3 separate regions of the Homo sapiens genome follow, and all the other regions are linked to region 1. The links come from fine-mapping of genetic effects on gene expression. A gene starts in region 1. Each other region holds a variant in brackets. All regions are shown on one strand. Distances are from middle to middle.

Region 1 (5,334 bases):
ACATCTGTCCCCTGGGGGCCTTGGGAGGCCCCTGGGGTACAGGATGAGAAGCCCCAAGTGCTGGTATTCACATGTAACTCTGCTGCCTGATGTGGCTAAGGCTGTCCCATGGGTACCCTGGAATAGGGCCGGGTGGTTGCACGGACAGAAGCCCCTAGAAGCCAGGGGCAGGACCCCGCACCCAAGTGAGACCCTGCTCCCTCCTCACATTGCAGCCCCTAAGCAGGGGCTCCCTGGGGGTGGGCACAGTGGCTGGGTACTCTGTGTTAGAGGCCACCCTGGCCCTCTGCTCCTGACCTGCAGCCATGTCAGAGGTCCACCCTGACCCTCTCTGCTCCACATCTTTAGCCATGTCAGAGGTCCACCCTGACCCTCTGCTCCTCACCTGCAGCCATGTCAGAGGCCCGCCCTGACCCTCTGTTTCATGCCTCTAGCCAGCAGCCCCTCGCATGACTCAGGCACGGGGCCACCTCTTGGCCCTAACCTCCTTCCACGGTAGACACCCCCGTCCTTCCACAGTAGACGCCCCCATCCTAACAAAGCGGCGGCTCTCCATGCGCCTCAGAGCCCGTCTCTCTCCGCGCCGGTGAGAACCTGCTCTCACGCGGGGAGCAGGTCGGAAGGGTCTGAACCATGAGGAAACTGAGGCCCAGGGAGGAAGCACCCGGCCCAAGGCCACTCAGCGCCAGGGGATAGACAGGGCCGCTCCAGAGAGGACGGGATGGCAGATGCCAGGGCCAGTGGGCTGGTGCTGCCTTGAAGGTGGCTCTGAGTCACCCATTCGGGAGAAACGAACAGTAGCACTGGCTGTGGTGAGGTCCGGCCTTTGCATTCCGGGCACCCGGGGTTGGGAAGTTCCTGCTCACATCTGGGGCCCTTGTGGGGGATGGCCCTGGGGCCCCACGGGCAGCTGCAGGTGGGAACAGCCTCAGGCAGCCGCCGCCAGGACCTGCTCAGGGAATGTGGTCTCCAGAGATGGGGACACCCCTCGGTCCCGGGTTCTGTGTGTGAGTGTCAGGGGTGCAGTCAGACCTTGGACCTGACGGCCTCAGTGAGAGCCCCGCGAGACGGGAGACTGTGAGCTCCTGAAGGTTCCGACGGCTGCTGGGAGTGTGGCCACGAGGGCCACTGGGAATCGGGGCCACCAGCCTGCAGCTGCAGCCCCCAGCGTCCGGGGATCCTTGTCCTGGGACTTCGCAGGCTCGGGTGGGGGGTATCAGCAATAGCTGGCGTCCTGCTGGACTGGACCCCTCCCCAGAGCCCGAAGCCCCCAGAAGGGCAGGCCCAGGTTCCCCGTAAACCCCCACTGCCCTGGCTGGAATCGTTCCTCGGACAGGGGCCCAGGGTTGGGTCCATTTCCTCCTCACCGGGGTCTTGGGCCAGTGCCCTCCCCTCTGGCCTCAGTTTCCTCATCCAACCTGCTGTGAGGTGTCACACCCGGAGGGCATCCCAGGAGGAGGAGGGCTCTCTTTCTAGGACCCCCCCATCACTTCCCGGCTGCGGCCCTCCCACCCCCAGGAGAACACAGCCCACCCTCCTAGACGGGGCTGAGCAGCCCGGCCTCCAGCATCTGCCTCTGGGTGGGGCTGGGGCACCTGGCTGGCACCTGCCAAACCCTCACCAGCCCACCTGCCCCAGCTGTGCAGGACCTGCCTGTGGGGTGGCCCTGTTGATATCTGAGGTGAGTCAACACGGCCATCCGTGCCGGCACTGTCAACTAAGCTGGGCAGGCCCCGCGAAGCTCTAAGGAGTCACAGCCCCGGCACCGGCTGCCGCTCTCTGCCCCCACCCCACCACCTTCCCCTCGAGCCTCTTACCTGGGCCGCCCTTCCTGGGACCCCGGGGTGCGGAGCAGCCGGCAGATGCCAGGAGGCCGCTCTCCAGCACAGGGTGCGTCTGGGACATGGAGCCACAGGTGGATCCCGAGGCTGAACTGGCTGCCCTGTCCCTCAGTCTTGAAGCCGGCATGAGGAGGGCCACCCTCAGGGGCCAACCTGGAGCCCAGGACAGGCCTCTACCAGGACTGCCTTTCCCGACCTCCTGCAGCCTTGAGGGAAAGAGGAGGGGCTGGGCCAGCTGGGGCGTCCTGGAGTTGGGCCTCTGTCCCTGGAAAGCCGAGGCCCTCCCGGCCACCAACTGGGTGTCCTCTGCCCTGGGGAGGGGGTGGGAGCCCTGGGGCTCATGTGACGCGGGGCGGGCCTGGGGCTGCAGGCTGGGGAAGGTCTCCCTGCAGCCTGCGGGTGAGGCAGCCAGCTGTGTCCCCGTGATAATGCCGGGGCCGGAGGCCTGCAGCTGCGCCCGCCACTTCCCTGACAGGAACCATCTGGGGCCCTGCCCTGCGCGGCCTTCCCTCGGGCCATTCCGGTTTGACCTTCCAACAACTTCCTCCTCCCAGGCAGCTCTGGTGACGTCCCACCCACCCTGAGCCCTACAGCGTGGCCACTGGGCATGTGTTTCCTCGGCCCCAGGGCAGGTGTGCAGGCCTGAGGGCAGCTCCATCCTGGCCCAGAGCCCTTGGCCTGTCCCGCCCACCCATCTTCCCCCCAGGGCTTGGCCCTTCCTTCAGCCTGGGGTATCTGGGGGTGTCCTCCCTCTCCGCTAGCCCTCAGTCAGCCGAGCTTTCCCCAGCACCCCTTTTAGTTTGCCCCCGCTCCAGGGGCCACCCTGCCCGTGTTCCTGTGTCTGCTGACTGTGCCCTTGAGCAAGGCGGGGCCTCTGACCAGCCTCTCCTCAGCCCCTGCTCCGGGGTTCTTGGGCACCTGACCTGTCCTCAAAGTACCTCCCGCCTGCTGGGAAGGAAACCCTCTCTCTCTGCTTGGCCTCGTGCACAGGGCTCCTGGCCCTCTGTGGAGACAGCAGGGCTCCCCCACTCTCCGGGGGTGCCTCAGAAAGACCCTCACCCCACGCCCCAGCGGCCGCCTCCGGTGAGCAGCCTGGAGTTTGCGGGGGTCGGGGGTAGGTGGCTTCTCCAGTCTGGGAAATTCCAGAAGCCACCTCAGAGCACTCTTGGGACTACTTAGACCCTAGGGAGAGTCCTAGGACCCCTTTCTAGCGGCCGTTGGGCTGAGAGAGTGAGGCACATCCCAGATGCTGGGAAAAAAAGCCACTTTCTAAAGCTCCCTGACAACTGTCAGAGGGCAGGAGCTTCCTGGGAGGGGACAGTGACCCTTCGGCCCTGCAGCCCTGGTTCGGTGGCTTTTCTGATGCCATGGCTGGAGGTTTCCCGGCCTCAGACAGGCCAGAGGTGTGGAGCCCGCAGACCCAGGGCCGGCTCACGGGCATCTGTGCTATTTTGATTTGATTTGATTTGAGTTTTAGGTCACGTTTGCACGCAGTTAATAATTCAAGCCGTGCAGGAGTAAAAGCCGACTCCTTCCCCGCAGGGTCTCCAGGTGTCCCGGGTCTCCCTGTCCCAATAGTCGAGTGTCTTTCTCGAGTTGGTGACAACAAGCTGCATGCCAGCGTGTGTGTCCAGCTTACAGTGGGGATGTGTTTGTTCCTGCTGGGGAACTTCCCAGACGCCAGGCCCACCCGGGGCCTCCCCTGCCCTGGGTGGTCGGCCGTTCTGCCCCCAGGACTGAGGCTGGAGGGGACATTCCTGCCAGCCCGGGGCCCATCCCCTGGTGCCATCATTCGGTCCCCACGTCCCCTGCTGTTCCCTGTGCTCTGGCTCAGGGTGGGATTCACAGTGAGGGTCCTGGGGGCCCTGACCCTCCTGGTTTCCTCATTTGTGCAGGGTGCACGATCCTAACGGCGTCAGCTCCTACAGCGTTTCCGGGAGTGGAGACAGCAGAGGCTCTGAGCCGCCACATGGGCCGGGGCCACCGTGAGCATGTGGCTGGGGTTGGTCTGTGTCAGTGCCTATTCCCCAGCTGTGTGCAGTGAGAGTCTCAGAGTCGGGGAACTGAGGGTCTCAGGGGGCACAGCCCCCACTCCGTGAGGCAGCAGGACAGCACCCTGGGTGAGGGTGGTGGCTCCCCCCACCCGGGGTAGGAGACAGGCAGCCCTGCCCCCAGCCCTGAGGCAGATGTTCGAGGCCTGCACCTGCGCCCCCCACAGATGGGACACTTCCACTTTCGCAATGAGGCCCTGAGCTCCCCGCCTGGCCCCGTCTTGCCTGGTGTCTAATCAGGGGGTCTGACGGAGGTGGGGTTGGAAAGAGAAGAGAAGAAAGTTGCCCACAAGTTGGGGGCAGGAGCTGCCCCCCAACTTTGGCGGCCACCTGGGGGTGTGGGCACCACTCCCCACCTCCCCACTACCGGCCTCCTCTCCCCCAGGCCGGGCAGTTGGTGCTTGTGGGGAAGCAGACGTTGGCTGTGGCTTTCAGAGCTGGGCGGCCAGGAGATAAGGGGCTGGGGAGGAAGTGGCTGCAGAGGTGGGGGCAGCAGGAGGGGCCTCGGCTTCTCCCAGGGACCTCTGCTGTCTGCAGCCAGCACCCAGCCTCTCGGGGCAGGAGGGGCCTTTCCTTCCTTCCTAAAAGACCTATTAGGGCCTACTGGGGTTCTTTCGGTGTCCAAGACAGCCCCTGGTCCTGCTCTCTGGGAACTATAGGAGACACGTTCCATCAACATGGCCCAGCATGTGGGGCCCATAGGGCAGTTGGGGAAACTGTCCCTGGGTGGGCAGAGGGGCCCTAAGGCAGGCTTTGGTGAATCTGTAGGATGGCCAGAGAACTGGAGGAGGGTGAGGGGGCAGTGGGGGAGATGACGCCATGTGGGGGTGGGTGAGGAGGCCTTCCTTCAGGCAGGGTGTCTTATGTTTGCCTTCTCTTCTAGCATGTAGGAACCCCCCCACCCCCAACACACACACCCTTCACTGCTGGATGAATAGATGAATGAATAGATTGATGAATGAATGGGTGGGTGGGTGAGTGGATGGGTGGGTAGATGATGGGTGGATGGGTGGGTGGGTGGATGAGTGAATGGGTGGATGGATGGGTGGATAGATGGGTGAGTGGGTGGATAGATGGGTGAGTGAGTGAGTGGGTGGATGGGTGGGTGGATGGATAGATGTGTGGATGGGTGGGTGGATGGATAGATGGGTGAATGGGCGGAAAGATGGGTGAATGGGTGGATGGATGAATGGATAAATGGGTAAATGGGTGGGTGGATGGAGAGATGGGTGAATGGGTGGGTAGGTAGATGGATGGGTGTGTGGGTGAATGAATGGTGGATGGGTGTGTGGGTGGGTGGGTGGATAGATGGGTGAATGTGTGGATGGGTGGATAGACGGGTGAATGGGTGGATGAGTGGATAGATGAGTGAATGGGTGGATGGATGGATGGATGGATAAATGGGTGAATGGGTGGTGGATGGATAGATGGGTGGATGGGTG
Region 2 (5,000 bases), 92 kb before region 1:
GGGCGTGGCTGTGTGTGGACACTCACGTTGTTGAGGTGCTTCCACTCTTCTGCCCACTCACGCTCTGTGAGCTTGTGGTCGATCACTTCTTCCTGCCGGGACCCAGGCACCACTGTGGATGGGGGAGGTGCACGCTTAGGTCCCACCCACAGCCAGTCTCTGCCCTATTCTCCCAGACCCCGCCCTCTGCTCCCAGGCCCCACCCGTGGGCTGTGCCCGCTGGGGACGATGGACAGGGTAACCGAAGGGCTGGTTGACTTGGTGACCGTGGAGGATGCCTGGGTTACTGAGCCGCCTGGGGCTCTGGGCCGACTGCTCTTCCCCTGCAACACGGCACACGCCTCCAAGGGAGGGTTCAGTCTCAGTCCCATTCTGCAGCTGAGGAAACTGAGGCTGGTTAAGAGGATGTGTTTGCCTGTGGTCACCAGGCAGGGAGCGGTGGGGGTGGGGTGTGGACCGAGGCTGGCTGGAGCTGGAGCAGTGTCCTCAGCCACTGGCCGGGAAGGCTTTGTTAGACTAAGCGTGGCCTGAGGATGCCTCAGTGCCAAGTCACACCATGACCTGGACCTGCCTTAGTCCGTGAATCAATGGGTAACCTCACTGGGAGGAGCTGGTCTCAGTCATTCGCGGCAGCCCTCTGCGGTCACCCGCAGGCGCCCATGACTCCGATGAAGCCACGCCAAACACCACCCAACCACGTGGCCTCGGCACCCGCCTCCTGTCTCTGCCTGTGAACACCGCCAGCCAAGCCGAGGCCAGGGCTCTCGGAACACGCTGGCTCTGAGGCCCATCCTATTCGGGGTTGTTCTCTGCTCAGTTAAACTCTGTTCAATACAGCGTGTCTAAGGTTTTTCCCTTTTGACAGGCTCCAGGACTGAAGCCGCAGAGGCCACTCCCACAGGTCACCAGAAACTAAGACGTGAGTGACGCCCGGCAGTGGCCGACTCTTCCGCCGTGGCTGTGCCCATGGGAGACGTGAGTGACGCCCGGCAGTGGCCGACTCTTCTGCGGTGGCTGCGCCCACGGGAGACGTGAGTGACCCCGGCAGTGGCCGACTTCCACGGTGGCTGCGCCCACGGGAGACGTGAGTGATGCCCGGCAGTGGCCAACTCTTCTGCGGTGGCTGTGCCCACGGGAGACGTGAGTGACGCCCGGCAGTGGCTTACTCTTTCGTGGTAGCTGCGCCCACGACTTCTGGAGACATCAGAGGCTTCCAGGCCCCACTGTTTTCTGCATTTGGCCACTGCCCACGCTTCTGGGGCTGAGGTCTCCCTCTTGGGGCCCTTTTCAGCCCCTAAAGATCTCCTAGCCTCCGAACCTGAAATGGCTCCCCCAAATTGCAGAGGAGGTGGGGAAGTGGCAGCCACAGCTCAGTCACCAGCCTGCTCTGCCGCCTGTGAAGCTGCAGCTGGCAGCAACACCCCAACCAAAATAGTGGCTGAGACGTGCCCGACAGCTGGCGTTTATTTCTGTATTAGCAGAATCGGGTGGGAGTCAGCACCTGCCTGACCCGGCTGCAGCATGCCAGACGCCGTCACCTGCTGCCTGGGCCCTGGAACCCTCCGCAAGGTGGGGGCTGGGAGATGGCCTTGTGTAGGGCAAGGCCTCTGCTGACCCTGCTGCTGGGCCCCCACCGGGCCCTGGGCCTCTGTCTCAGCATGGCAGACTGGAGGCCTCCCTGCAGCCTGTCCTGGGGGGGCTCCTGGGGTGGGGCTGGGCCTGACCATCTCTGGGTTCTCAGCACAGAGGCCGTCAAAACGTCAGGCAGGCTGGGCTGTGAGACTGTGGGTGCATTATGTGTGCTCTCAGGCCTCAGTCTCCTCATCTGTGGTATGGGGGTGCTGACGCCACCCCACTGACGGGCTCAGAAACGAGTGAAGGATAAAATGCACCGAGACTCCGTGCCCACCTCTCTGTTATCCACACCAGCCTGGCCTCACGCAGAGACTCTGTGCCCCTCTCCTGCTCTAGATACCAGCCAGGCCTCACGGCAGCCCTTGCTGGGCCCTGCATTAACTCCCCCAGGCCTTGGACTCTGAGAGTTGGGACTCTCGTCTGGCCCAGGTGACAGAGGAGGAAACTGAGAAGCAGAGAGCCACGTGACTCACCTGTGGGTGGACTGTGGGAATCGCCAAGCTCGGATGAGAACCACGTGGGCAGTTCCAGGCCCGAGGCCGCCCACCCCGGGGGGAGAGGTGGGTTCAGGGCCCAGGACAGGCCCCTCTGCAGCCACCGCTCTGCTCCAGGGGGAATGCCAGGCAGGGGGAAGGGG[T/A]CTCCCGAGCTCAGGTGCACACAGCTGCCCGTGGTGCCCTGTGCCCACATGCTCAGGTGTACATGTGGGCGCATGTGTGCTCCTGTAACACGCGTCCACGCTCCCGCCCCACCGGGCTGCTCACCAAGCGGCCGATGGCGCTCTCGTAGCTCCCGGGGGTCTGGGTGGCGGTAGGCATCTCGGAAGTGGTGGGCCATGGCTATGTCCTCCAGGCGGTAGTGCGGCGGCGGTGTGGGCTGCGGTGGCCCGTTGCTGGGGCTGTAGCGCTGGGCAGGGTTCAGGGTGCATGGCCGTTTGCTGAGGTGCTCGGGGTGCAGCGGGTCGCGGTCTGACCCGTTCTCTTTGGTCCTAGCCCCAAGAGCAGGTGGGGCGAGGGCAGTGGACATAGGATGAACCGGGGACAGAGGTGCAGGTGGGGTGAGAGGCAGACAGGCAAGGGCAGAGAGAAAGAGGACACGTAAGGGCGAGACAGAAACACGGAGCAAAACACCAGCCCCGGGAAGCCCAGCCCGGCGCCCCCACTCTCTGCCCCTCTGCCGGGGCCCATGCCAGCCTCAACCCCTGCTCCAGCTGCATGGCATCCTGGGGCCTGGTGGTCAAAGAGCCGGACTCGCTGCTCTGGGAACGAGGAGAGGGATACACCAGGCTTCCGTAACTGGAGACCACCTGCCCCTTGGGCAGCAGCAGCACAAGAGCGTCTGGGGCAGCAGAGGGGGCCCAGCCCAGGCACCTGGGGACCATGGACCCCGGACGCTCGGAGTCCATGCCCGGCACACAGGGGAGAGCCGTCCTCCCACCAGCCTCCTCCCTGTCCTCCTAGGCTCCCCGGAGCATCTGAGTCTGCAGCCCACTGGGGTGTCCGCCCGTGCAGCCACCAAGCCTGCTGGCCCTAGTACACCTCGCCACGCTCCCTCAGCCCGAGAGAGCCGGCCGGGCTGGCTGCAGCCCCAGAGGAGGTTCCCTCTCTTACCCAGAGGGGAGCAGGGTGAGCCGCGTGTCCACGGCACCCCCAGCCCAGATCCCCGGAGCCCACAGGTACCTGTCGGGCGTCCTCCTCTTGCCGTTCTCGTTGACTTCCAGTAGCAGCTCTGAGGAGTCGATGGGGGAGGAGGCGCTGGCGTCCAGCAGGAGCTGCTCATGCTGGGCCAAGTACTGGGCGGGCGTCTGCTTGGCCAGGCGTGCACAGTGCAGGAGCTCCCGCTGCAGCAAGGGCAGGTTTGCCTGTGGGGTGGGGAAGGAGGGCCTGGGTAGCATGCAGGGGTGCACAGCCCTGCTCAGGTCCGAGCAGAGGGGGCCTGGGCTGGGTGGCCGAAAGCTCAACTTGACCTCGGGCCTCAAAGGTCAAGGTGCTCGACCTCTCTGGGCCTCAAGTTCCTTCCTAGCAGTGCCATGGGAGGGTGGCGTGGGAGGGTGGGCACAGAGCTTCGCAGGAGTGCCTCACCTGGGCCACACGGCGATGTGGGGCATGTGGGACTTGAGCCCAGATCCTGGACTCCCAGGGTGGGGCTTTCCCACCGCACCCAGCTCCCTCCCATGGCGTGGTCTGGAGAAGGCGAGAGGACGAAGGGGCAGCAGATCATGGTTGGTCTTCCCGCCTGCACCCGCCCTGCCCAGCAGGCACCACATGACCCAACACAGCTGGGGAAATGCAGGCTCAGAGAGGGGGAGGCAGCCCTGGGCCTACAGGCGGCTCACACGAGGGAGCTGGGAGTGAAACCCAGCTGGGATTGCCTGCAGTGTGTCTGCTCCAGCCCTGATGGGAAGCCCTGAGGTTCAGCTTCCCCTTCCCTTCCCGCTGGTTTCCAGCCTTGGCCTTGATGGAGCGTGGACCTAGGACGTGGACACCCACGTTCTGTGGCTGCTCAAGTGATCCTCCAGCCTTGGTGAGGACGGCCTCAAGACCCACGTGTGCGGGTAAAGACTCCGCAGCATGCGGCCGAAGGACGGCCCGGTGTACGGGATCCGTATGCAGACCCTGCCTTTGACGCCTGTGTGTACCCGCGGCGCCCGCCGCCTCGTCCTTGGCTCCAGGCTGGCACTGCTGGGCCGCAAGCCGGGCTCCTCGGGTGCCTTCCCCAAAGTCTTCCCAGAGCTGCCGCGGGAGGGCGGACAGGCGTGCTGGACCCTGAGCATGCTGGACCAGGGCCCAGCAGCAGGCCACTTGGGAGAGCCAGCGGTTCTAAGCATTTGTAAATAAATCCAATTCCCCAACTTTCTCATGCGTTTCAAAGCTGCCACGCCGCCTTCTCCTGCCAGCGCCTCCCCATTCCCCACGAGTGCATCCACCAGGCCCTCGAGCAGTGCCGGCTGCCGGCCTGTTTTTCTCTTTGGATGGCTGAACAGGGGCCAACCGGCCATCTGTTGAGGACATCAGGAGCATGAGCTGGGAAACGAGGTCCCGGGAGGTCTGAGGAGCCAAACATCCTCCCTCCCTCATCAGCCCCTCCCCAGGGGCCTCCTCTTGGTCAGTTCGGGAACCGGCTGGTCGCTGTTAGGGCGGGGAGAACATCTGGATCCCTGGCTGGCTGGGGCCAGCTGAGGCCAGCTGGGAGCCGGGGCGGTGGGTGGGGCTGCATCCCCCAGCTTCTGGAAGGCCTGACCCTTGGGCTGCGTGTGGGGCAGGCTCAGGAAAGGGTGCAGAGAACCCAGGACTGGGCAGCATCAGCGTAGGGGCCGGATGCACAGCAGCCCTCGGCAAGCAGGGAATGTTTCCTCAAGGCCTGCGGAA
Region 3 (5,000 bases), 41 kb before region 1:
GACCCTGAAGGAGCAGCTCGGCCGCAGAGGCACGGTGGGGACACAGCAGCCAGCAGGGCCACACAGAGAGGGTCTCAGCCACACACCTGGCCGGCACGGCCGGCACCATCGGGGGGCGACAGGCGAGGCTCCATCTTCCCTGTGCACAGTGTGTGGTGCTGACCAACCCCCGCAAGGGACAGATGGGGACACGGAGGCCCAGAGGAGCGGAGAGGAGTCTGGCCTCGCTGCCTGCCTATTCTTGCTGTTGGCAGGGCCTGGTAAAGGAGGCAGAGATGCCACGAAAGAGGCACGAAGGGCCGTGCCCTGCCCTCTTCCACCCCCGAAGTTCAGAAGGACGCATTCTTTTTTTCTCGGAGACGGAGTCTCGCTCTGTCGCCCAGGCTGGAGTGCAGTGGCGCGATCTCGGCTCACTGCAAGCTCTGCCTCCCGGGTTCACGCTATTCTCCTGCCTCAGCCTCCCCAGTAGCTGGGACTACAGGCGCCCGCCACCACGCCCGGCTAATTTTTTGTATTTTTTAGTAGAGACGGGGTTTCACCGTGTTAGCCAGGATGGTCTCGATCTCCTGACCTCGTGATCCACCCGCCTTGGCCTCCCAAAGTGCTGGGATTACAGGCGTAAGCCACCGTGCCTGGCCAGAAGGACGCATTCTTTAAGGGAGCTGAAGGCCACGTGGTGGAGCTGCAAGCCTCCATCAGGCACAGGGATACGTGGAGTCCAGCACCCAAGGCCCCTGTTCTGTCCACTTGGGCACAGCCACGGCCCAGAGACCCAACGCTGCCCCCGGTCAGGGGCAGTCCTGGGTTCTGATGTCTCTGGCGCAGGAGAGGCTGCATGGAAGGGCCCCATGTCCACTGCGCTCTGAGTACAGGCTGGGCTGGACTAGGCTGTGGAGCCCTGGTGTGGTGGCCAAGGCAAGGGGAGGGGCCCGGCAATCCCCAGGCCTGGTGAGAGCCCCCCACCACCTGCGTGGGGACCCTGGTGGTGCAGAAATACCTAGGCTCTGGAGGGCCCAAGTCAGGTGGCCTCGGCTCCCAAGTGGGAATTCTGCCTCTGACAGGGAGTAACTAGAGTACAACTGATCTTACCCTCAGTTTCCCCTCTGTAAATGGGTCTGCAGGTGGCGTGGTGCACCCGGGGGCCCAGGGCTTGGCCCCAAGCTTGCAGGCTGTCCTCGCGTGGGTGGAGCAGGCACAGGGCCTGGGGTCTGGGCTGTGCCAGAGTCTGACCATCGAGGTGGTCTCTCTGGACCACCCCATTTTGCAAAGGTGCAGACAATGAACTTCTGTTCGGGGGCCTGCAGAGAAGGGGGCCTGGGTGCAGAGCTGCATCATGCCGCATCCACCACTGAGCCTCAGGACACCACCGGGTGTCCCCCCAGAAAAGGGACGAGGCTGATGGTCCCAGTCCAGACACACACATCCCAGCTCATCACAGCCCGAAGGGGTAAATGCCTTTGTGACTGCATTTTGCGTTTGAGACCCGAGGGACAGATGGGAATATGTGGTGTAGGTCACGCAGCTGCTGGGAGGGGAGTCGAATCCAGGTGGGGGCTCCAAGAAACCGAGGGGCTGCCCATCCCCCTCCCCGCTGCCTCCGGGAACAGGGCAGGGGGCTGCAGTCACCCCTGGCCCTCGTGGGGAGCCCCTCCCCACCTGTAAGAGGGTCTCACTGCAGCTGGAGCTGCTTCCCCTGCTGGCTTGATGGCACCCTGGCTTTCCCGGGTACTCAGGGAGGTCGGGTACACTGGGCGGGGACTTCCTCATGAGTTCCATGTGTGACCTGGGGCCACCAGGGTGCGCAGGAGCCCTCCTGACTGCCCCGGGCATTTCCTGGGCGTCTCCCAGGTATCTCCCATCCTGGTCTCCGGCAGGTCCCACCTGCTGCCTCCCCGGTGTGGACTTTCCTCTGCTGAGTAAACAGAAGACTGCCCCGGTGCCTGGACTTCCTCCCCAAACCTCCTCCTGCCACGTCCACCATGACCCCAGCCTCAGGGGCAGCCAAGCATCCACCACGACCCCAGCCTCAGGGGCAGCCGAGTATCCACCACGACCCCAGCCTCAGGGGCAGCCGAGTATCCACCACGACCCCAGCCTCAGGGGCAGCCGAGTATCCACCACGACCTCAGCCTCAGGGGCAGCCGAGGAGGCTCTGAGCTGCCCAGACCCGACGGGGCAGAACCGGCCCTGGGTGGCTAAGCGGGCGGGAAACGCAGAGGCAGGCGGCCGACAGCAGTGCGGGGTGAGCTGCCGGCTGGGCTGCTGGTGCCTTGGCTCCGGGAGACATCTTCCTTATTACGGCCAAATTCATCTTTGTTTTCCTTCCCAGTGACATCTGGCTCTCAGTGAGGTCCCACGAATTACAAAAAGCAGAAGTCTGAACTTCTGTTTTATTGCCACAGGAAACTCATTGCCACAGCACAGGCGGAAAGCC[G/A]GATCCCGGCGGGTCCTGAGTCCCCAGCTCCCACCCTCGGGGCAAGCTGCGAGCTCAGAAGTGGGGACTGGGGAGCAGTTATCTCTCACTCTCCTCATCGTCAGTTTCCAGCCCAACTGCCAGGTCTCCGCCTGAGTCTTTTCCACTGATGCTACAAGGGCGGTTTCCACTCCAGGAATTTTTTTTCCAGACAAGCAAAGCCCTTGCCTGCATTTGCTCTCGGCTAAGGCGGCCCTCCCAGGCCTGCCCGGTGGGCTGTTTCCCGCAGCACGGCCTGGGCTCCGCTGAAAGGAAGGTCCCGGCCTACGGAAGCGCAGAAGCAGAACCAGGCCTTCTCACTCTGCCCAGGAAAGTCAGGAGGTGGAGAATAAAACCCCCAGGAAAGGATCTGGGGTGTCGTTCACTGACGCAGGCTTTCCCAGAGAGACTGAGCCACGAGGTGGACGAACAGCGTGGTGTCCACCCAACCTGGCCCTGACACCAGGGATGGTGACGCTGTCGTGAGCCTCCCTCTGAGCTGCCCTCAAGCGGCCTGCACCTCCCTAGCCAGTACCCCAGCAGTTGTGTTTCCACCCCTCTCCTGCCCCTGCGAGGCAGCGGGTCCCAGCCCACAGTGTGCACTGGACTCTGCACACTCCCGGCCCACTCCCTGCCGTCCCCACGCTGGCCCTCCCGTGTCAGAACTCAGTGGGAAGTTCCAGGGGCCTGACCACCCTGGATGTGTCACAGACAGAGCCCCGTGGTACCCACCCGCGTCGGGCTCCTGCGCTGTGAGCTAGGAACTTCTGTGGGCCTCGGCTTCCCGGTCTGGAAAGTGGGGCAGCAGCGGTGCCCTCAGGGCTGGCTGCCGTGAGGATCCAATGCAGGGCCTGGGTGCCTCTCACTGCATGTGACTCTGCCCCCGCCTGGTATGGAGTAGGTGTTCGATCAATACTTGCCCAGGGAATGAGCACTGGAGGACAGGCACTTTTTGTCCTGTAAGTGAAGTGGTGGCAAAGCCACCCTCCGGCATTGACAAATTGTAGAGTTTAGGTCCTTTCCGTCCCCAGGGGCCTGGGGCCAGCCTGGGAGGTGACATCGGTTGCCTGGACGTGGATTTCTATGAACACTGGATGCCATGTCTGTGATAATAGCCGGGCAATGTTCCAGTGGCTTCTGGAGGGTCTTTAGCAACAACGACCTCCCTCCCCTGCACAGCAGGGCAGGAAGCAGAGGTGGGGCTGGCCAGAGGTGCAGACCTAGAGCAGCCGGGATGAGGCTGGCCTTGGGGCTCCATGACCCAGGCAGGGCAGAGGTCAAGTTCTCCCACCCGTGCCCTGACCCCAGATGGGCCCCAGGGCCTGTATCCAGGTGAGGGCTTTTGCACCTACAGTGCTAACCCCGAGTCATGACCGAGCCCTCAGCCACCAGATCCCCCAGTCCCTTGGGGGTGCTCAGGTGCTCTAAGAATGTGGCCCGGCAGGCTGGGGATGGGGACCGACAGCACAGGCAAAGGAACGCCCGGGCAGGGCTGGACAGGGACTGGGCGGGGCTGGACAGGGGCCTGGAGACACTCGCTGCGGCCCGCCGTCAGACTGGCTCCCTGCATGACCTGTGGAGTGACTGTACCTCTCCCGGCGTCGGAGACGGGGAACGCTCCACGGCCCTCGTGGGTGTTACAGGGACGCGACAGTGCGTGTAAGCCCCAGCGCTGTTGTAGGCTCTAAGACCCACCCAGGAAGGCTCCACGACCCTGTGAGCAGGAGACACAGGCCACAGGCAGGCAGTGCAGCAAGTGCGGGCCGGGAGAGCAGCCCCATGGAGACGCCAGCGCCTTCACCTGTGGCACCAATAACAAGGCCCTGCTAGTCCCTCCATGCTGGGTCTGAACACCCGCGTGGCACACACGGCACTGGGGCACGCTGAAGTTGCTTCTGGTTCCTCCCTGCCAGGGAAGGAAATTCAGAGCCACTTAATTCAAGCACCATCCTTCCACCCTGGCACTGTGGGAGGCTGAGGATGAATCAGAAAACCCCAAAGTCAACCTGCTAACGGTGCAGCAGGGAAGGGGGGAGGCCAGCGGAGAGCCCCAAGATGGTTCCAGAAGCTGGCAGGGAAATGCCTCACCCACCTCACACCCTCCCTGCCACCCCAGAGGCGGCAGCGGCGAGGCCCGGCCCTCCCCACTGCAGCCCTGAGGGCTGGGATCTTGGGGATTAGTGACCCAGCCTGCTGGCAGCATCTCCAGATCCTCGCGTAGGGAGAAAAATTAATTTCTTCCAGTCATGCAGAAATGAAAATACGTGGAGCCAAACCAGAGAGATTTCCTGGAGGTGGTAACTGAATTACGCAGATAGCGGGCGGCAGGGGAAGAGCTCAGGGGGGCTCGGGCGGCTGGTGTGTGGCTTCGTAGCCCCAGAGGGTTCTGGAAGGCGATGTCTGGGGAAAGCCCTCCCACTCACCAGCCCTGGCTTCACAGGTGGTGACAGCACGGCCCCAGCACCACGAACCACTCATGTGAACTTCCCTTCTCCCCTGTCACTAGAGGATCCCAGCACATCCCAGGAGAGATGGAGCCTGCCGGAAG

What was found. PIP is the estimated chance that this variant, and not a neighbour inherited with it, causes the effect.
Region 2: its variant is fine-mapped to the expression of CBFA2T3 in whole blood (TOPMed, PIP above 0.99).
Region 3: its variant is fine-mapped to the expression of CBFA2T3 in whole blood (INTERVAL, PIP above 0.99).

What each region holds. Positions count from the first base shown.
Region 1 is chr16:88,974,840-88,980,173 of GRCh38, forward strand. It overlaps CBFA2T3 (CBFA2/RUNX1 partner transcriptional co-repressor 3), which reads right to left and starts at 2,368. Exons shown (of 12, transcript NM_005187.6): 1 at 1,818-2,368. The coding sequence starts at 1,968. RefSeq lists enhancers at 493-1,037, 690-899, 2,740-2,789.
Region 2 is chr16:88,882,650-88,887,649 of GRCh38, forward strand. CBFA2T3 (CBFA2/RUNX1 partner transcriptional co-repressor 3) reads right to left here. Exons shown (of 12, transcript NM_005187.6): 6 at 3,312-3,493; 7 at 2,397-2,620; 8 at 27-112. It overlaps LOC101927793 (a long non-coding RNA gene), which reads left to right and starts at 866. Exons shown (of 3, transcript NR_135194.1): 1 at 866-1,569; 2 at 1,972-2,195; 3 at 3,093-4,487. The variant T/A (reference allele first, on the strand shown) is at 2,273.
Region 3 is chr16:88,934,402-88,939,401 of GRCh38, forward strand. The region is part of intron 1 of CBFA2T3 (CBFA2/RUNX1 partner transcriptional co-repressor 3); the gene reads right to left. It overlaps LOC107984871 (a long non-coding RNA gene), which reads right to left. Exons shown (of 2, transcript XR_001752305.3): 1 at 3,185-5,000; 2 at 2,377-2,737. It overlaps LOC100129697 (a long non-coding RNA gene), which reads left to right and starts at 4,870. Exons shown (of 2, transcript NR_168285.1): 1 at 4,870-5,000. RefSeq lists an enhancer at 1,864-2,063. The variant G/A (reference allele first, on the strand shown) is at 2,435.